2 separate regions of the Homo sapiens genome follow, and region 2 is linked to region 1. Evidence: fine-mapped expression QTL. A gene starts in region 1. The other region holds a variant in brackets. All regions are shown on one strand. Distances are from middle to middle. Region 1 holds the start of CLPSL2 (colipase like 2). Region 2 holds the start of CLPS (colipase).

Region 1 (10,436 bases):
TTCTTAGTAAACTCTTCCCTGAGCACCCCATTTAAAACTGCAAACCCTGGCCAGGTGCGGTGGCTTACGCCTGTAATCCTAGCACTTTGGGAGGCCAAGGCGGGTGGATTGCTTGAGGTCAGGAGTTCAAGACCAGCCTGACCAATACGGTGAAACCCTGTCTCTACTAAAAATACAGAAAAAAAAATTAGCTGGGCGTGGCAGTGGGTGCCTGTAATCTCAGCTACTCGGGAGGCTGAGGCAGGGGAATCGCTTGAACTCAGGAGGCTAAGTTTGCAGTGAGCCGAGATTGCCCCACTGCACTCCAGCCTGGGTGACAAAGCAAGACTCTGTCCCAAAAAAAAGAAAAAGAAAAAGAAAAAAAAAAAAAACACCTGCAAACCCTTCTCACACCACCACTCCCACAGCTCGATTCTTATTTTCCCTTTCCTTGCTTATCACCTGAGATAGATGCTATTATTAATAGCATCTATTGTAATGTTTTACTTCTTTGCCTCACACACTAGAGTGACAGCTCTACAAGGGCAAGGATTTTTATCTTTCTTGCTCACAGCCCTATCACTAAATGTAGAAAAATAATTTACATATAGTAGGTGCTCAATAAAAATGTGTTGCATGAGTGAATATCTGTCTCCCTTACCACATGTGCGCATGGGCAGGGGGGCTCTCTCACATTCACCTCTGTGGCAGCAGCACCTGGCACTGCCCTGGCACAGCTTCCAGGACCAGGTTGTTCTCTCTTTCCTCCGAGACATCTTCCACCCAACACTCCCTGCTGCCCCCACTTCTGGCCTTCTCCCACACTAGCCCCCATGCCCGCTCACCTCCCCAAATAGTACAGGCCTTAGGACAGTGGAGGGGGAGGTGACTGCACTCTCCAGCTTTCTTACCAAAAGGTTGTATTTTGTTGGAGAAAGTGAGCCCCTGGTGAGGAGGAAGAGAAAGAAGAAGAGAAGGAACAGCAGCAGCAGCCATTGGGGTAGCATCATGGCCCACAGGTCGTGGTGGCTTTTCTAGGGTCCAGCGAAATATCCTGCACGCCGACCATGTGGGTGTCCTCCCAGCTGTGGGAACACCATGTAAAACCAGCACCCAACCCCGTCAGAATTTTCCCATCCTGCACAATACTCAGGCTAGGCCAATCAGCAAATTCCACCACAATAATTAGTTCAGGCAGACTAAGCCAATCCAATCAGAACCGATCTTAGGATGTTTGCTGAAAATTGTGGAACAGAGATGTTTTCTTTCTCTGAAAGGCACAGTATTGATGTACATGGTGGATTTGTGGTTAAGAGCCTGGCCTCTGGGGCAGGATTGTCTGGGTTCAAGTCTCAGTTCCAACCCTTACTTTAGGAGCCTCGATACCCTGTTTGTAAAATAGGGATAATTATAACACCTACTATAGCCCTGTTGTGACAAAAAGATGAGTCAATACAGTTAAGAAAGCACTTTGGGCCAGGCGCAGTGGCTCATGCTTGTAATCCCAGCACTTTGGGAGGCTGAGGCAGGAGGATCACTTGAGCCCAGGAGTTTGAGACCAGCCAGGGCAATACAGTGAGGCCCTGTCTCTATTAAAAAAAAAAAAAGAAAAAGAAAAAGAAAAAAAATTGGCCGGGCATGGTGTCACACACCTGTAGTCCCAGTTACTTGGGAGGCTGACGTGGGAGGATCTTTTGAGCCCAGGGGGTTGAGGCTGCAGTACGCTGCGATCGAGCCACTGCACTCCAGCCTGGGTGCTGTCTTAAATTTTTTAATTAAATGAAAAAGAAAGCACTTTGCACAGTGTCTGGCACATAGGAAGTGCTCAATAAATCCTACCTGTTATTAGGTGACACCTGGAATGTTTGTGACTACTGGGAAGGAATTCAGCCTGAGAGCTGCTGGCTCTGGCCCTACCTAAGGGTTGCCTGACCTCTGGACTTTCATTTCCCATCACCAGTAAATCCCCTCCTCACCTAGACCAATTTGAGTTGGTTTTTAAGATACTTGCAGCAGAAAGAGGCCTCACTGCTACCCCAATGATATGACCTAGGGCAAGTCATGTCGCTTCTCTGGGCCTCAGTTTCTTTGTCCATGCAGTGAACCGACAATACCTGAGAGAGCGGAGGCATCCATGCACCAGGTCCCTTTCCCACCACAGGCATTTCTGCATTTATACTTTGCACATTCTCACCAACTCTCTAATGATCTCTACCCTTTTGTGCCCCACAACCCGCCCCGCAAAACATTCAGATACCTCCACCTAGTCTCTCCCTACCACACACCCCTCCATAGGCACCCCAACATACACTCTCCAGGTACATTCCTCAATCCCGTCTCTCCCACACAGCCCTCCAACCAGAGAATCAGCCCTTTCCCAGACCCAGCCCCTGCTCCACCACACCCTCCCTGTGCCATTCCCTTCCTGCAGTTCTACCCTGACCTCCGGACAGGGCCAAATCCCATTAGAAGCTCATTCATGCCTCCAGTCTCCCCTTTTGCCTGCCCCCTGGACTGGTACAATCTCCACCAGGTCCCCTCGCCCAGAAAGTACAGACAGAGGCCAAGGACAGGAAGTGACTTTAATGTCTCAGGAGCTGGATTTGGAGCAAGTTGGTGGCAACCAGGGCCTATGGCCCCAAGGGAGCAGTGACCAGCCTGCATCTTCCTCTAAATCATATGGCACCGGCGGGAACACATCAAGTCCTTGGATATGCACGTCAAGCCCATCCGGCAAGGGCAGATGATGTTGGTAGCTCCCTTGGTCTGCAGGGAGTGGGTATGAGAATCGGGAGTCACCAGGATGCAGGAAGGATGGGGACTTAAACTTCTTGGGGACCAGAACCAAGAGTACCAGGCCTGGAGTAAGACAGACCTGGGCTGTCTCTACAGCTTATAACTGCGTGACCTTCAGCAAGTCAATGAACCTCTCCAGCTCGGTTTCCTCATCTGTCAAATGGGGACAGTAATAGTAACCCCCCTCATAGGGTTGTTGTGAGGACTAAATGAGATAGAGCAGATCAAGTGGTGATAATAAAAAGACCCTTTAGGCCATGCGCGGTGGCTCACCCCTGTAATCCCAGCGCTTTGGAAGGCCGAGGCGGGTGGATCACCTGAGGTCAGGAGTTTGAGACTAGCCTGGCCAACATGGTCATGGACTAATAATATAAAAATTAGCACATGCCTGTAATCCCAGCTACTCCAGAGGCTGAGGCAGAGGAATTGCTTGAACCCAGGAGGTGGAGGTTGCAGTGGGCCAAGATCACGCCATTGCACTCCAGCCTGGGCAACAAGAGCAAAACTCTGTCTCAAAAAATAAAAAAAATAAAAACCCTCTAGCCACTTCAGCTATAGGGTCAGGCCATGGTAGGGGCCCTGCTGCTTCCTTAGGGCATTGGCAACTCCCCACACAGGGACATAGAGGCTGGGTCCATCCATCCTAGAAAGGTTTGGGCCCAGGGCCAGGTGGGCAGGAACAGGGCGTACTGAGCATTCTGCTCCCTGCATTCCTAAAAGCGAGTGACAACCATGCTGGACTGCACACTCTCCTTGCCAGGACCACATAATCTTCCCAACAGCCTGGTGGGGTAGGTACTTTAGCCTCTCCTTGTAGATGAGGAAACTAAGGCTCAGAGAGCCATGATGACCTGCTTGAAGTCACAAAGATAGGGTGTGGAAAAGTCAGGATTTAAACTCAGGTCCAACTGCAAAGCTGTGGTCCTGCCACTGCAGTGCCATGCTCCTCTCAAGAAATCATGTCACTGTGGCAGGGAGATGGGGACTAGTAAGGGGAAGGTCATTTCCTACTTACCCTGCCTCAGTGGTGTGAGAGAAGAGATATTCATTCATTCAACAAGCATTTATTGGCCGGGCACGGTGGCTCATGCCTATAATCCCAGCACCTTGGGAGGCCGAGCCAGGTGGATCACCTGAGGTCAGGAGTTCAAGACCGGCTTGGCCAACATGGCAAAACCCCATCTCTACCAAAGATACGAAAATTAGCCAGGCATAGCGGTGCACCCCTGTAATCCCAGCTACTCGGGAGGCTGAGGCCCAAGAATCGCTTGAACCCAGGAGGCAGAGGTTGCAGTGAGCCGAGATCATGCCATTGCACTCTAGCCTGGGTGACAGAGCGAGACTCCATCTCGAAACAAACAAACAAACAACAATAAGCATTTATTGAGCACCTACTATGTGCAGATACTAAGCTGGGGGTAGGTGCTTCATAGATGAATATGATGCGATCCCTGCCCTTGAAGAGTTCCAACCACTGGGAGAGGCAGAGAAAAGACATGGCCAGTTAGGGAGATACATGGTCTGCTGAGGGTCTGACCCCAGGGTACAGGAGCTCCAAGGAGGGAAGCCTTCTCAGAGGAGGTGGCTGGAGTTGTTTTGCACCATGAGTAGGAGTTTGCCAAGTGGAGAAGAAGAAGGGCACTCCAGACAGAGGTGAAAAAACAGGTGGGGCCAGGTGTTTTTTTTTTAACCTCCCTGCCCGCTTCTCTACTTGCCAGAAGTTGCCCCATACTAGGGCCTCACCTGGGGCAAGCAGATCATGGTTATTCTGGCCCTGGGGGCACAGAAGGCTCCACCGGAGTCCAAGTCCATGAGGCAGCAGCCACTGTAGCACTCAGAGTGGTGGAAGCACCTGTCTGTGATTTTCTGTGGGGACAGGCAGAATGTCTGCCAGGCTGGGAGCAATCCCTGAGTCGTGTGGGCGGGTAGGGGAGGGTTCCCACCATTGCCAAAGAGCCCAGGGATCCAGGAGAAGTCATGAGGTTGTCACCCCTTGGGGGGCTGGTTCCCCCCCCAGCCCCACCCCGGCCCCTCAGCAGGACCCAGGGCAGCAGAGAGGAGGAGAGGGGGATTAGCACTTTTCCCTCGGCCTCTCCTTTCCTGGACCCCCCTCACCTCCATGAGTCCCATGGGGTGTGTACTCTTAAGTCCCATTTTGCGGGGCAGGGTTGGGGGATGAGAATGAAGGGGCTGCGGGCTCGAAAAAGAGGGAGAGAAAGAGGAGAAAAGGGGAGAGCCCTCGTGCCTGGAAGAATCACTAGACAGTGAGAGGAGGTGGAAGAAGAGGAGGAGAAACCAGAGCATGCAGGGTGGGTTTGCCTGTGAGCAGTTTGGGGAGGGAAGCGAGCCCAGGACTGAGGCCATCGGAAGGGGCACGGGCGGGGGAGGTGGAGGGAGCGAGGGTGCTGGTCATAGGCCAATTTCTCTCCCCTCTGAGGCCACCAGGGGAAAGTGAAGCGGCTTTTGAAGTCCGTCTGAGGATGCCCCAGGCTACCCGCCTGGGTGTGGTTCCGGACCCACCTCTCCCTTTCAGGCTGCCCGGCGCCTTCGGGCTCCAGTGCCCCGGCGGCGGGGCCACCCTCTCCTGCGGTCGCGGCCGGCTGGGCGCGCTCCCCGGCTCACCTTTTTATATTGCGGAAGCGCGCTCCAGAGGGGCAGCACCGCCCCCGACAGGACCCCCGCCACGAGCGCCAGGGCTGCGGCCATGGGCCTGGGCGGCAGAGCAGCGGCGGGGTTCCGAGGGGCCGCGGGATAAAACCTCTTCCCCGGCCACGTGACCCGGCGCCCCAGGCCACCCCGGCGGAGGAGGGACGTGGAGGGCGAGGACGCCTGCGGAAGGGAAGGAGGGAGGAAAGGCGCTCAGGCTCGCACGGGCGGGATTCCAGACTGTAGGGGCCCTGGGAGCCTCCATACGTGTTACTTCCAAGTAGAAGCTTGAAACTGTAAGATAAAACTCTATTTTTATTGTAAGATAAAACTCTATTTTATTGTATTTATTTATTTTACAGACGGAGTCTCGCACTGTCGCCCAGTGCAGTGGCGTGATCTCGGCTCACTGCCATCTCCGCCTCCCAGGTTCAAGTGATCCTCCTGCCTCAGCCTCCCGAGTAGCTGGGACTACAGGTGTGCGCCACCACGCCGGGATAATTTTAAAAATTTCTGTAGAGACGGGGGTCTCCCCATGTCGCCCAGGCTGGTCTCTAACTCCTGGCCTCAAGTGATGGTCCTGCTTCAGCCTCCCAAAGTGCTGGGATTACAGGTGTGAGCCACCGCACCTGGCCTCAAAACTTTATTTTTATAAACGGCACAAAACATATATGCTGAAATAAAAAGAGCTTCCTTCCTGATGTTGATTCTCTGTCTGCCCTTGCAGCCCCAGATTCTCCCCTTACCTTCGGGATAATCCAGCCCCACCCTCTGGGCTGCTCACACCCGCTGCAGGCCCCATTCTCCTCTTCTGTAAGAACCAGGAGGTGGGACAAGATGGTCTCTAAGTCTTAAATCTCTTGCAGTCTTAATCATTCTATTAATTGTCTAAGGATTTGTCTGTGAATTGTGTGAAAGTCAAGATGTGGGGGCAAAATGGAGAAGTGGGAAGAGAAGAAAACTCAGAATAGGGAGGAGGGTTAAGGGAGAGCTAGAGCTGCACAGAGCAATCCTGGAACCGGGGGAGGCAGGCCTTCCTCAGGACTTCCCTATGGATGAAGCTTCCACCTCACCCCACCTGCCTGCTTCTGCTTTTTTTTAATTTCTATTTTTTTTTAATTTTGTATTGTTAATATTTGTTATAGAGACAGGTTGTCCTTATGTTGTCCAGGCTGGTCTTGAACTCATGGGCTCAAGAGATTCTCCTGCCTCGGCCTCCCAAAGTGGTGGGATTACAGACGTGAGCCACCACTCCCAGCCTGCTTCTGCTTTTGAAGTTTCGCTTAAGAAATGAACCGAGGAATCCTGTCTTGGTGGGGAATAACAGCCAAGAATAACAGCCCCCACCGCACTCAGAGGGCCTTGTATCCATTATTTCCGTGAGCCCTCCCTGTATTAACACTAGCTGTCACAGAGTAATTAACACTGGCTGTAACAACAGAACTCCTGGAATTTCGTGGCTTGGCACAATAATGCTTTATGTACAGTCTGATTTGGGGCAAGATACCCTTCTTCCATCCTGTAGCCATCTATAAGACTGGCCTCTGGCTGGGCATGGTGGCTCATGCATGTATTCACAGCACTTCGGGAGGCCAAGGAGAGAGGATCAGTTGTTTTGGGGGTTTTTTTGGTTTTTTTTTTTTTTTTTTTTTTTTTTTTTTTTGAGACAGAGTCTCACGCTATTGCCCAGGCTGAAGTGCAATGGCACAATCTCGGCTCACTGCAACCTCCGCAAAGTGCTGGGATTACCAGTGGGAGTCACCATGCCCGGCTGAGAGGATCTCGTGAGCTCAGGAGTTCAAGGCCAGCCCTGGGCAATATAGTGAGACCTCATTGCTACAAAAAAAATTTAAGAAATTAGCCAGACATGGTGGCACATGCATGTAGTCCTGGCTACTCGGGAGGCTGAAGCTGCAGTGAGTTATGATCGTGCCACTGCACTCCAGCATGGGCAACAGAGTGAGACCCTGTCTCAAAAAAAAAAAAAAAAACTAGCATCCAAGGTCTCCATGGAAGACCTGCCTTCTCCACTCACAAACCACCTGCTGGAACTAGTCACATGATCCCAACCCTCTAACCTTCTGCAAGGGAGGCTGGGAAATTCAAAGGAGTCTTGGAATATTTAGCATCTACTATCATTTCTGCTGCGTAACTCTTAGCCCTGTTTTACAGACTAGGAACCTGAAGGCTCAAGATAAAGTTACTTGCCCAAGGAACAGGATTAAATGGCAGAGTCAGATATAAATCCAGGGCATTCTAGCTCCTGGGTCCAAGTTCTTACCACTGATCTACACTGCTGCGGGCGGCCAGAGGGCTTTGGCCCTAGTAAGGGGGTTCCCATCATTACCTAGTAAGGGGGCTCCAGCAGTCGCGGTCTGAGCTCTCTTCATATGTGTGTTCTGCTACCTTGGCTGACTAGCGACCCATCCACGCAGACCATTTGTGAACTGGAGAGGAGGCCTGGGGATGGATACTTCCTTGTACTGCTTCACCGGCTTCCTTTGCCCATACCCCCATGACCGTTAGATACTTGAGAAGTATTGTTGACTGCTTAGGAAAGTGGCAAATTTGAAGGCAAGGGGCCAGCAACTGCGTGTCAGGGTTAGCAGCCCCTGGGGAACCCACTGAAGGCCCTGAGGGGTGGTGAAGCCCCTGGAATTCTGTACAAAATATTATGGGCATGGCTTTTTTTTTTCTTAAGCCAGAGATCTTCCGGTTTCCTCAAAAACAACTAGTTCAGAACCTTTATTTTCAGTTGAGGAAACCGAGGCCCAGAGAAGGCAGGGACTTCTCCCAGTAACTCAGCTGGTGAGTAGCAGAGCCAGGCCTAGCTCTGCTCCTGACTCCAAGTCCTGTACCATGGCCTGCCAGCACCGGTCACAGGCACATGTCCAGGGTACCTCTGCATTGCGGGGGAGTAGGAACAAGATCACCAGGGTCTCCAGCGCCGGGAATCCCTGAGCTGCCTGACCTGTGAGCATGGCCACAGCTCTGCCCAGGGCCCAAAACTGGCCACCTCAGACTTCAGTGAGCAGAAGGGGGTCAGTTCAGGACAGGGGAGCACCTTGCTGGTGGACTTCTTACCCCCTATTTCCTGCCTCTTCACCTTCCCCTCCTCTGACAGTCTCTAACGTCTCACTTCTTTTCTTCTGCATCTTTCTGGTGGTGCAAGTGGTGGTTTCCATGACAATGTTCTCACTGGTCTGCAGCAAAATGAAAACAATAAGGATAATGTAGTAGTGTTTTTGTTAAAGGTAAATATATTCAATTTATTATTATTAAAAAAAAATTTGTTTTTGAGGTGTCACCCAGGCTGTAGTGCAGTAGCGCGATCTGGGCTCACTGCAGCCTTCGCCTCCTGGGTTCAAGCAAGTCTCCTGCCTCAGCCCCCCTCCAAGTAGCTGAGAATACAGGCGCGCGCCACCACGCCCAGCTAATTCTTGCATTTTTAGTAGAGGTAGCGTCTCAACATATTGCCCAGGCAGGGAAATGTATTTAATTTAAAAAGTAATTATTTATTCTGAAATTATGTCTTTTCTACTTCTTTGGTGTTAAAATGTGCTTTTATGAAATAATGGCGATCAGGGGTTCAAGACCAACCTGGCAACAAAGTGAGACCTCTGTCTCTACAAAAAATAAAAGAATTAGCTGGGCATGGTGGCATCTGCCTATGGTCCCAAATACATGGGAGGCTGAGGTGAGAGGATCTCGAGCCTGGGAGGTTGAGGCTGCAGTGAGCCATGCCACTGCACTCCAATCTGGGTGACAGAGATAGACTGTCTCAAAAAAGTAATAATAATTAAATAAAATGGTGATGGTATTTGGAGGTAAAAAATAAAATAAAATATTTAAAAATATATTTTAAAAAAGCAATAATAGCCACGATACAGTAGTAGTTTTGTTTCATTGTTCATGTTCTTTTTTGGCGCATATATATATATATATATATATATATACTTTTTTTTTTTTTTTGAGACCAAGTCTTGCGCTGTCACCCAGGCTGGAGTGCAGAGGTGCCATCTTGGCTCACTGCAACCTCTGCCTCCCAGGTTCAAGCAATTCTCCTGCCTCAGCTTCCCAAGTAGCTGGGATTACAGGCGCCCGCCACCACGCCTGGCTAATTTTTTTGTATTTTTTTTAGTAGAGACAGGGTTTCACCATGTTGGCCAGGCTGGTCTTGAACCCCTGATCTTAGGTGATCCACCGGCCTCCCAAAGTGCTGGGATTACAGGCTTGAGCCACCGAAACTGGCTTTTGGCCAATATATTAAATATATGTGCACAAATTCTGTTAGTCCTCAGAATTTTTTGGAAGTCTTATCAGTCTTTGAAATCCAAAATAAAATTCTGGGGAAAACTGACCTCATGAAAATTGCGCATTACTCAAGTCCTTCCTGAAGGAACTCTAAAAGTAATCTGGGGAGAGTGAGGAACGAGTGGGTGCCCTAAGAGTTTGATATGCAAAGATAGATCAGCAAAGCCTTCCTAGAGAAGAGGACCAGAGTGGGAAGTGTTTGGAGGTGAGGAGGTGGAGGCCTCAAGGTTGTATGTCCCGGACCCTGGCAGGAGAGGGCCGCGCTGTTTTGCTAAGCCTTGAAGGGGGACTGGGATTTGGCAAGCAGAGAGACTAAGGGTTTCCAACCAGGGGTACAGGGTGGGCAAAGGTTTGGAAGTGACAGTGAGTAGCTGTGGGTAGAACAGCAAGGAGATGGTGTCTGCTTGTTGGGGATACAGATTGGAGATGGGGCGGTCAGCGTGCAAAGGAACTTGAGGGTCTGTGGGAATAGCCCCTGTTGAGGTGGCTCCTCAGTGGAAAGCTGGGTTGGTGGTGGCAATGCTAGAGTCAGAGCAGGGGGACCTGAGCCATTGAGCCAGGGGTGCAGGGTGAGGGTGGGGTTGCCCTGCTCTGTCTGTGAGGACAGGAGGGTCTCTAGAAGGAGAGGCCCAGCATGCCCAAGGGAGATCAGCTCTTTCCCAGCTTCTAGTCACCCCACCCACACAACATACTCTGAACCA
Region 2 (10,436 bases), 19 kb before region 1:
CCTCAGTTAATTTTTCTATTTTTAGTAGAGACGGGGTTTCACCAGGTTGGCCAGGAAGGTCTCAAACACCTGACCTCAAGAGTTATCAAATTCTTGATAACCTCTTTCACAACCCTAGGCAGTTGACAGCTAAATAGCCTTAAATTTGCATATTAAAGGAAACAGTTCAGATGAAAGTCAAACAGCAAAATTTACATTATAAGGTGCGCCAAGAAAAGTCTGGTGTTCTAGAGGGAAATTAAAACAGATTTAATTGCCAATTAAACATAAAAGTATGGAAATTATAAAGGCCTTTTAAACACACACACACACACACACACCTTGTAGCTTTTACTTCAGAACTTTTAGCCATGAAATAAATACAAATTCACCTGGCTTGCAAAAAGAACTTGTTGGATCTAAACAGTGGTTTTTCTCTTAATAGAAAAATAACAGCAGATTGCCGGGCGCGGTGGCTCACGCCTGTAATCCCAGCACTGTGGGAGGCCAAAGTGGGCGGATCACGAGGTCAGGAGTTCCAGACCAGACTGGCCAACATGGTGAAACCCCATCTCTACTAAAAATACAAAAAATTAGCTGGGTGTGGTGGCAGGCACCTATAATCCCAGCTACTCAGGAGGCTGAGGCAGGAGAATGACTTGAACCCGGGAGGCAGAAGTTGCAGTGAGATGAGATTGTGCCATTGCACTCCAGGCTGGGCAACAGAGTGAGACTCCATCGAAAGGAAGGGAGGGAGGAAGGAAGGAAGGAAGGAGGGAAGGAAGGAAGGAAGGAAGATTTAGAGCAGGCAGAAAAGAAAAATAGAGAAAAAGATGACTTAGGAATTCTATAGTTTGCAGGTCAACCTTAGGGCTCTTTTTCCTTAATGTAAATGTGCACAAAGACCACGTTATTTCCATTTTACATAAACTTTGTCAGGTAGAGGTGCCATAAAAGCTACGGAGTGCTCAAAAGGGGGTCATTTTCTTTGTTTTCTCCTCATTCTGAAACCACCTTTGCAAAATTATGACTGAGACAGTGAAAGAGATCTAACTTAAGTGACTCCATCTTGTTTCTAACCTCCAAGCTGTCCTTGTTCATTCCTAGGCGTAAGCTGAACTAACTTTGGGAGAAACTTAGTTTATAGTTTAAACAAAGACAGTAACAGCCCTTTCCCAAAGCTGACTTCATTCTTGCCTGGGGACTAGATTGCCTTTGTAGGACTAACATTAGCCACAAGATTAGAAATTATGGTTTAGGAGTCACGCAGCTGGAGGCTACAAGATCCTGATCCTCCCTAAACTACTCCTAAGATCAGTGCTTGAGATATTTTGCTGACCCTGCACTTGATGGATCAGCTGGCCCCACCCAGATCAATAAACTGGCTCATCTGATCTTGTGGCCCTCACCCAGTAATTGACTGGGTGCACGAAGACAGCTCTGAGTCCCTATGATTTCATCTCTGACCAATCATCACCCCTGGCTCACTGGCTTCCCCCCACCCACCAAGTTATCTTCAAAAACTCTGCTCCCTGCTGGGCATGGTAGCTCATGCCTGTAATCCCAGCACTTTGGGAGACTGAGGCAGGTGGATCACTTGAGGTCAGGAGTTCAAGACCAGCCTGACCAACATGGTGAAACCCCATATCTACTAAAAATACAAAATTAGCCGAGCATGGTGGCACATGCCTGTAATCCCAGCTACTCGAGAGGCCGAGGCAGGAGAATCACTTGAACCCAGGAGGCGGAGGTTGCAGTGAGCCAAGATCATGCCATTGCACTCCAACCTGGGCAACAAGAGCGAAACTCTGTCTCAACAGCAACAACAACTCTAAAACTCTAGTCTCCTGCACCTGCACAGCCGGCTCTGCATGAAATACTCTTTCTCCACTGCAATTCCCCTGTCTTGATGAATCGGCTCTATCTAGGTAGTGGGCAAGGTGAACCCCTTCAGTGGTTACATCCTGAGGGCTGTGTCACAGGCCATGGTTGCTCATATTTGGCTCAGAATAAATCTATTCAAATATTGTACAGAGTTTGACTCTTTTCATTGACAGGTACTTAATTTTTGCTTTCCTTTTAGAAGCACATACAGTGTCAAAGTTCTCTTTGCTACACTTCATTTGTAATGGAAAAAACTCCAGCCTTTTTTCTTTGCAAGCTTGGCTGAGACCAACTAGGGACAGGGCTGATGGTTTTCACAGCTCCCTTCATGGAGAGAAATCACTCCTCTGATTCCTTTGCCAGTCTCCATCTTGACTTGTGAGAAGGGAATAGTGATTCCCTTCTCTGTGGCTCACCTCACAGAGGTCCTGGGGGTGGGGAGCAGGTAGAGAAAAGAGAAGGAAGGATCAGAGTGAACTCATAGGAAAAAGTGCTTTCAAACATTGAGTTCTATAAAAGAGAGGGGGGATAGTGTTCTTTCATCAATGGTATTTCTGCATCGCTGGAACCAAATTGGTTTTTCTCATTTTGAGAGTCTCCTGGTTGTTCCTCCAGCTATTTCTCTACATTCCACACCCCAGGGATGTAAAGGTGAGAGGAAGGGGGTCATATTACATGGCTGGGCACCCACCATGTGCCAGGCACTTCCGAAGGTGTTCCACGTGCATTGTCTTAATCATGACCTCAGGAAGTAGGAGGCGTTATCCCCCTAAGATAAATAAGGAAAGTGAGGTTCAGGGAGCTTCACTTTCAATAATGTGTCTGAGGCCACGTAGCTCCAGTAAATGCTGAATTTTGAAGCCAGCTTGGTCTGGATCAAAGCTGTGCTTGAGGCTGGGCACAGTGGCTCACACCTGTAATCCCAACACTTTAGGAGGCCGAGGTGGGAAGATTGCTTGAGCCCACGAGTTTTAGACCTGGGAGGCTTAGGGGGAAGATTGCTTGATCTCAGGAGGTGGAGGCTGCAGTGAGCCAAGATGGCACAACTGCACTTCGGCCTAGGTGACAGAGTGAGACCTTGTCTCAAAAAATTAAATTAAATTAAATTAAAAGCTGTGCTTGAGGCCTGGGCCTCTCAGTGGAGCTGTCTTCTACCTCCTGGGATGGAGAGGGGAAGGGCAGGGGCCTCTGGCTGCCATGACTAGTCCTTCAGGAAAAGCTGCTCTGTTCCCATGCCTGAGCAAACTCAGGCAGCTGTGCCCTTCCCAGCTTCCTGAGGCCCCTGCTCCATCTGAGGCTCATGAGACCTCTTCATTCTCAGCCAGGACTAGCGACTGCTCACGCGCGCACGTGGCCTTGGGTAGGGGGCAGCGTGAGTGGAAACCTTAACTAAAGGGGTGAGTATCTGATGCTGGAATTGCAGATAGTAAGTGAGGTAGAAAGGAAAGGGGAGAGAGGCATTTAGGAAGGGCCTCCTAAGGGCCCTTGAGTCAGGCCTGCAGGCAGCCCCTGGTGTGAGGGCAGGGGGAGGGTGCCAAAGTGAAAGCACACACACCCTGGCCTGCTGGGGGTTGCAGAACTGTCAGCCCCAGGGATCTGGGCATGGCCTGGAATCCCCCGAGGAGACTGAAGGAAGGTTGAGGGGTGGGAGGCTAGGATCCTCGTCCCTGGAGTCTGACACTGCTAGACACCTGGGCTTGGGTGGGCCAAAGGCAAGGCCTGACTATAGTGAGGCAGAGAGGCCCCAAGTACACAGAATGTAAGCAGGCACTCACACCATAGGTGCCTCTCTTGCCTTGGATTCGTCCAGGCACTGCCCAGGAGCTCAAGACACAAGGGCAGCCACCCTTACCCACTGCTTATGTGGCATATGGGAATATACAATATAAATATATTCTTATAATTGTATATAATAATGTTTATATATATGTAACACATA[A/TAA]ATGTGTATTAATTCAACCCTCACAACTCTTTAAATTATCCTTAGTTGACAGATAAGATGAAAGGCAGAATAGTTGGAACAGATAGTAAGTTTGCCTCACTAATAACTTGTACACAGTCCATACTCTTAACCACGATGCAACACAATTATCACCAACACACACACACACACACACACACACACACACACACACACGAAAAAGGCCACCAGGTACTCACCCAGTTTCCTTATCAGGAACCGCCCCACAGCAGATTGGCCACAGCTGTGCCTCTGCCCACGGCCAGCCCTGTGGGATGCAGGTGGATCTCGTGAGGTCAGGGCCCCTTTTATAGCCCCATCACCACAGCTGGCTCTGTCTCCCGCCACCCACACCAGCTGTCCCACTCACCATGGAGAAGATCCTGATCCTCCTGCTTGTCGCCCTCTCTGTGGCCTATGCAGCTCCTGGCCCCCGGGGGATCATTATCAACCTGGTAAGAGGGTCTTCAGGGGAGGCGCCTCCTGAGTCCCCAGATGAAGACTTCCTAAGCTTGGACCTTGACCTCTGATGTCTCCACCTGGACTGGCAGGGGCTGGGAGGAGTGGCATCTTGCATCCCTCTGTTTACTTCCATGTCCTGTCCTATGCCTCTTCCCAGAGGCCACAGGAAAGGCTGATCAGCCCCTCTCCAGCTCCAACTGGAGCATGCTCAGAGCAGCAGCTCAACCTGGCTATGAGGGACCTTTTTTTTCTTTTTTTTCTTTTTGAAACGGAGTCTTGCTCTGTCACCAGGCTGGAGTGTAGTGGCACAATCTCGGCTCACTGCAATCTCTGCTTCCCGGGTTCAAATGATTCTCCTGCCTCAGCCTCCCAAGAAGCTGGGATTACAGGTGCCTGCCATAACGCTCAGCTATTTTTTGTATTTTTAGTAGAAATAGGGTTTCACCATGTTGCCCAGGCTAGTCTCAAACTCCTGACCTCGTGATCCGCCCACCTCGGCCTCCCAAAGTGCTGGGATTACAGGCATGAGCCACCTCACCTGGCCCTACGAGGGAGCTTTGTAAAAATCCAGAGCCCTGGGCTTCCATCCTGAGAAAATGCTTTGCGCCAATCATTCCAGCTTCTGACTTATGGAGATGCCTCGGAGATGTTTACTCATTCTGTTCTCATAATAACCACTGAGGGAGGTGTTTTCAGAGTCAGCCCTGTCTTCAGACAGAGAGAGGGTGAGCAACCTGCCTGAGGTCACATAGCTGGAAAGTGGTTCAGCTGGGGCCCCACCACTGCCCCACACCACCTCTCCACCATGGGTCTTGGCTGGGAAAGCCCTTCCAGAACGTCCATGCGGTTGAAAGGTTCTGAACTCTCTTAACTTGGGGCCATGGCTGGACTTGGAGGTCCAGGACCCTTGGAGATTATAGATCAGATCTGTTGGGGGAGGAAGGAGTCTTGCAGGGAGATGCAATCTTCACCGCCTCCTTAAAGAGGTGTGGGACCCAGAGTGGTTTGGAGAACTTGTCTAGGGGCCTTGTGTGCACATTCCAAATGGGAACACTGAGGCTTGGGAGGCAGTGACTTGCCCAGAGTCACACAGGAGGTTGGTAGCACAGCCGGTACTAGAACCCAGGGGTCCTGACCCTCTGTGCAAGTCTGCTTCTCTGTCACCGCATGCCCACTTCTCACGTGGGTGGGGGGCACAGAGGCCACCAGACCCAGGGGATGGACTCCTTCACACACATCCCTACCAGGGGAGACACTGTTAGTGGTAGTGTGTGGTGGGTACAGGTCTGAATGGAGAAGGGACCTGAGGGAGTGGGGCCTGGGCTGACTGGCTGCTCCTGGCAGGAGAACGGTGAGCTCTGCATGAATAGTGCCCAGTGTAAGAGCAATTGCTGCCAGCATTCAAGTGCGCTGGGCCTGGCCCGCTGCACATCCATGGCCAGCGAGAACAGCGAGTGCTCTGTCAAGGTGGGTGCCTGAGGACTTGGCGTGGGTGGGGGAGAATGGGGAGTAGGGCCCTGAACACTTGTGAGTGGGATCAGGGAGGGGGGTCAGCCTGGACACTGAATGTTGAGGAGACGAGAGGGAGGTCGACAGGTGTCAAAGCACTTTCCCATCCCATCATCTCTCTTGACCCTCCCGAGTGACCAGTGAGATGGGTGGGGGTGGGGATTTGTTATCCCCATTTCATGGCTGGGTAAATAGAGGCTCCCCAGAGAGATCAAGCTAGTAAGAGCAAATGAGCCAGAGCAGAGGTCAGAGCTGGGGTCTCCAGGGCCCACGGCACCCCTGGGGAGGCAGGTGGGAGAGGCACTCCCCGAAAACACAGGCTGGCCTACTGGTTCTCTAGGTCAGGCAGGGGACAAGTGATGTCCAAAGTATCTCCCCATAGCCTTGACTCCATTGGCTGTGTCTCTGCAGACGCTCTATGGGATTTACTACAAGTGTCCCTGTGAGCGTGGCCTGACCTGTGAGGGAGACAAGACCATCGTGGGCTCCATCACCAACACCAACTTTGGCATCTGCCATGACGCTGGACGCTCCAAGCAGTGAGACTGCCCACCCACTCCCACACCTAGCCCAGAATGCTGTAGGCCACTAGGCGCAGGGGCATCTCTCCCCTGCTCCAGCGCATCTCCCGGGCTGGCCACCTCCTTGACCAGCATATCTGTTTTCTGATTGCGCTCTTCACAATTAAAGGCCTCCTGCAAACCTTTCCCAGTCTCCTGCATATTCTTTCTGACTCAGCATCTTCTCTGAAGTTGCATCAGGCCTTTGGTCCACCAGGGCAGGCTTCAGGCAGGTCAGAAGAACAAGGGATGGGTCTGGGGCTGAAGAAGTTGTGGCCAAACAGATTGGAGACTGAAGACAAAGCTGTGAAGGAGACCCAGCCAGCCTAGGAAACCCTCCATTTCTGGGGAGAAGTCACACCTACCTGGGATGCCCTCCTTGTCCCTCCGGTTCTCAAAGAGACAAGCGGGCACATGTGCATGCGCGCGCACATACACACACACACACACACACACACACACACACACTTGTGGGTAAGGAGTTTTAATGGCCCATGTTCGTCACCCTGCATCAGAGGCATCAGAATCCTGGGCTCTCACCTCTTTTCTGGACACAATTCTCAAATATGACAGCTAGCTGACACAACTCATGTGTTAAGGGGTCAGACCACTCTCAATTGCTATGAGCTTACTCTCTGCCAGCAAATGCTCACAAGGATCCCAGGAGGGAGAATTTCTCATCTCCACTTTATAGATAGAGACCAAGTTTCAGAGAGGAGCTTGCCCAATGTCACATAATCAGAAAATGTTGGCACTCTACCATCTAACTCCACTGCCCTGCTTCTATGATTCCTTTTTTTTTTTTTTTCTGAAACAGAGTCTCTCTCTGTTGCCCAGACTGGAGTGCAGCGGAGTGATCTCTTGGCTCACTGCAACCTCCACCTCCCAGGTTCAAGCGATTCTCCTGCCCCAGCCTCCCCTAGTAGCTGGGATTACAGGCGCCTACCACCACGCCCGGCTAATTTTTGTGTTTTTAGTAGAGACGGGGTTTCATCGTGTTGGCCAGGCTGGTCTCAAACTCCTGACCCCAGGTGATCCACCACCTCAGCCTCCCAAAGTGCTGGGATTACAGGTATGAGCCACCGTGCCCGGCCTTATGATTCCTTTTTCTTTCCCAATTATTCGCATTAAGAAAAATGGGTGGAAACTGCAAGGAATTTAATTTTGCCTTAATATAAAAATTGTATATCCCCTGGAGCCATCAAACATGAGTTACCTTAGGCAGTACTGAGGTGCCCATCATCCAGGTACGCAGGTGGAAGCTCACTGACCCCTCGGTGGAGATGCTAGAGAGGAGATTCCCACAGAGAGTGAGGGACAGTGAACTGAATGAAACTTCGATGTCGTCCCAGCCCCAGGATCTTGCAGTTCTGTGATCAATGAATCCTCCTGTAACCACAGGCTTATGAGTTAGGATTGCATTCAACTGTGAGTAGCAGAAAAACCCAAGTAATTATGGCTGAAGCAAATAGGAACGTATATTTCTCATGAATCCAAAGCAAAGACACAGGAAGTGCTGGCATTCTTTTGGTGGCTGGTAGCTCTTGACCTTCTCTTCAAGGTTGCCACATGCCTTAGCAGCAGCTCATGACTTCACGTTCTCACCGTATTCGAAGGCAGGAAGCATGGAGTAGCTGGCAGCTGGGAAGGCGGGAGAAGGAGCAGAGAGTTTCTTCTTGCATACCCTTTTTTTTTTTTTTTTTGAGACAGAGTTTTGCTCTTGTTGCCCAAGCCAGAGTGCAGTGGCACGATCTCGGCTCCCTGCAACTTCTGCCTCCTGGGTTCATGCGATTCTCCTGCTTCAGCCTCCCAAGTAGCTGGGACTACAGGCGCCTGCCACCACGCCTGGCTGATTTTTTGCATTTTTAGTAGAGACAGGGTTTCACCATGTTGGCCAGGCTGATCTTGAATTCCTTACCTCAGGTGATCCACCTGCCTCGGCCTCCCAAAGTGCTGGGATTACAGGCATGAACCATGGCACCTGGACCATACCCTCTTCTTATCTTTCCTCAAATCCTCAAGGCCGACTTCTCTTCATATCTCAGTGGCTAGAACTAGGTTATCTGACTACTTCTAGCTGCAAGGGACGCTGGGAAAGCAAAGGGAATAAGATCCTTCTCCTGGGGCCAGGTTCATTGATGCCCAAACAATATTGGGTTTCAGTTGGCAGGGAAGGGGGCAATGGCTATTAGGAAACCAGGTAATGGTGTCTGCCACATATGAATTATGTGCTCAACAAGAGGAGCTTTCAATACCTTAACCCAGGAGGGGTCTCAGGCCCTGAGCAGGGCTGAGTCACGCTTCTTGGTGCCACATTCGGTCCTGGAGATCTGCATTCATGTCCCCTTCATGTGTTCACTGAATGACCACAGTGTGCCTGGCACCGTGTTTTGGACTGTGGGGGGCATAAGGAAAATGTCCCTGGTCTTCAAAAGTGAGTAGGGAGTTGGGCTTTGGGCTCTGCAGAAGCAAGTGACCAAGACCCCAACCATTATGTAGCTTCCATTTTATTTCCAACGGCCAGTGCTCCTGTAGACTCTCAATTTCTGCTGCTTTTCAGCATCACACGCCTACACAGCAGAGGCACAGTCTAACCACAGCTCAAGGAACCAGATGGTCCCCACTTACAATGGTTTGACTGACAATTTTTCAACTTTATGATGGTGCAAAAGCAATATGCATTCAGTAGAACATCAATAAATTACATGAGATATATTCGACACTTTATTCTAAAATAGGCTTTGTGTTATTTTTCCCAGCTAATGTAAGCATTCTGATTGAGCACATTTAAGGTAGGCTAAGCTAAGCTATGATATTCAGTAGGTTAGGTGTATTAAATACTTTTTTTTTTTTTTGAGACAGGGTCTCACTCTGTGACCCAGGCTGGAATGCAGTGGCATGATCATGGCTCACTACAGCCTTGACATCCTGGGCTCAAGTGATCCTCCCACCTCAGTTCCCCAAGTGCTAGAACTATAGGCGTGTGCCACCATGCCTGGCTAATTTATTTATTTATTTATTTATTTATTTTTGTGGCGGGGGGAAGATGGAGTCTGTCTCTGTTGCCCAGAGTGGAGTGCAATAGTGCGATCTCGGCTCACTGCAGCCTCTGCCTCCCAGGTTCAAGCAATTCTCCTGAATCAGCCTCCCGAGTAGCTGGGACTACAGGCACATGCCACCACGTCCAGCTAATTTATTTATTTATTTATTTATTTGTATTTTTAGTAGAGATGGGGTTTCACCATGTTGCCCAGGCTGGTTGCGAACTCCTGAGCTCAGGCAATCTGCCCACCTAGGCCTCCGAAAGTGCTAGGATTATAGGTGTGAGCCTCCATGCCCGGAGTTAATTTTTATATTTTTAGTGGAGATGGGGTTTCACCATGATGCCCACACTGGTCTTAAACTCCTAGGCTCAAGCAATCCGCCCACCTCAACCTCCTAAAGTGCTGGGATTACAGGCACAAGCCACCACACCTGCCCATTAAATGTATTTTCTTTTTCTTTTTCTTTTTTTTTTTTTGGAGACAGAGTCTAACTCTGTCACCCAGGCCGGAATGCAATGGCACGATCTCGGCTCGCTGCAACCTCCGCCTCCCGGGTTCAAGTGATTCTCCTGCCTCAGCCTCCCGAGTAGCTGGGATTACAGGCGTGCCCTCCACGCCCAGCTAATTTTTGTATTTTTAGTAGAGACGGGGTTTCACCATGTTGGTCAGGCTGGTCTCGAACTCCTGACCTTGTGATCCGCCTGCCTCAGCCTCCCAAAGTGCTAGGATTACAGGCGTGAGCCCCCGTGCCCGGCCTATTAAACGTATTTTCAACTTACGATATTTTCAACTTAAACAATGTGTTTATCAGGATGTAGCCCCATCGTAAGTCAAGGAGCATCTGTACTTTATTCCCTACAAATCTCTCTGGATTCTGACAACGGCAGCCTCTACCAATGACCACTTTTCCCATAGGGCAGCGGAATCCCCATGGCTTGTGAAGGGGTCTAGAGAATGCCACTGAAGCATAAAAATTATTCTGAGCAGAAGGCATTTGAAAATGGGCCTTTTTCTTTTCTTTCTTTCTTTTTTTTTTTTTTG

The links.
Region 2: its variant is fine-mapped to the expression of CLPSL2 in pancreas (GTEx, PIP above 0.99).

The regions. Positions count from the first base shown.
Region 1 is chr6:35,771,664-35,782,099 of GRCh38, reverse strand. CLPSL2 (colipase like 2) reads right to left here and starts at 5,502. Exons shown (of 3, transcript NM_207409.4): 1 at 5,398-5,502; 2 at 4,519-4,641; 3 at 2,548-2,745. The coding sequence starts at 5,481. The coding sequence ends at 2,650. CLPSL1 (colipase like 1) reads right to left here and starts at 1,081. Exons shown (of 3, transcript NM_001010886.5): 1 at 891-1,081. The coding sequence starts at 989. It also overlaps the pseudogene CMPK1P1. RefSeq lists a silencer at 5,392-5,521.
Region 2 is chr6:35,791,044-35,801,479 of GRCh38, reverse strand. It overlaps CLPS (colipase), which reads left to right and starts at 4,157. Exons shown (of 3, transcript NM_001832.4): 1 at 4,157-4,275; 2 at 5,627-5,749; 3 at 6,203-6,498. The coding sequence starts at 4,192. The coding sequence ends at 6,334. It also overlaps a transcript of CLPSL1 not described here. The variant A/TAA (reference allele first, on the strand shown) is at 3,803.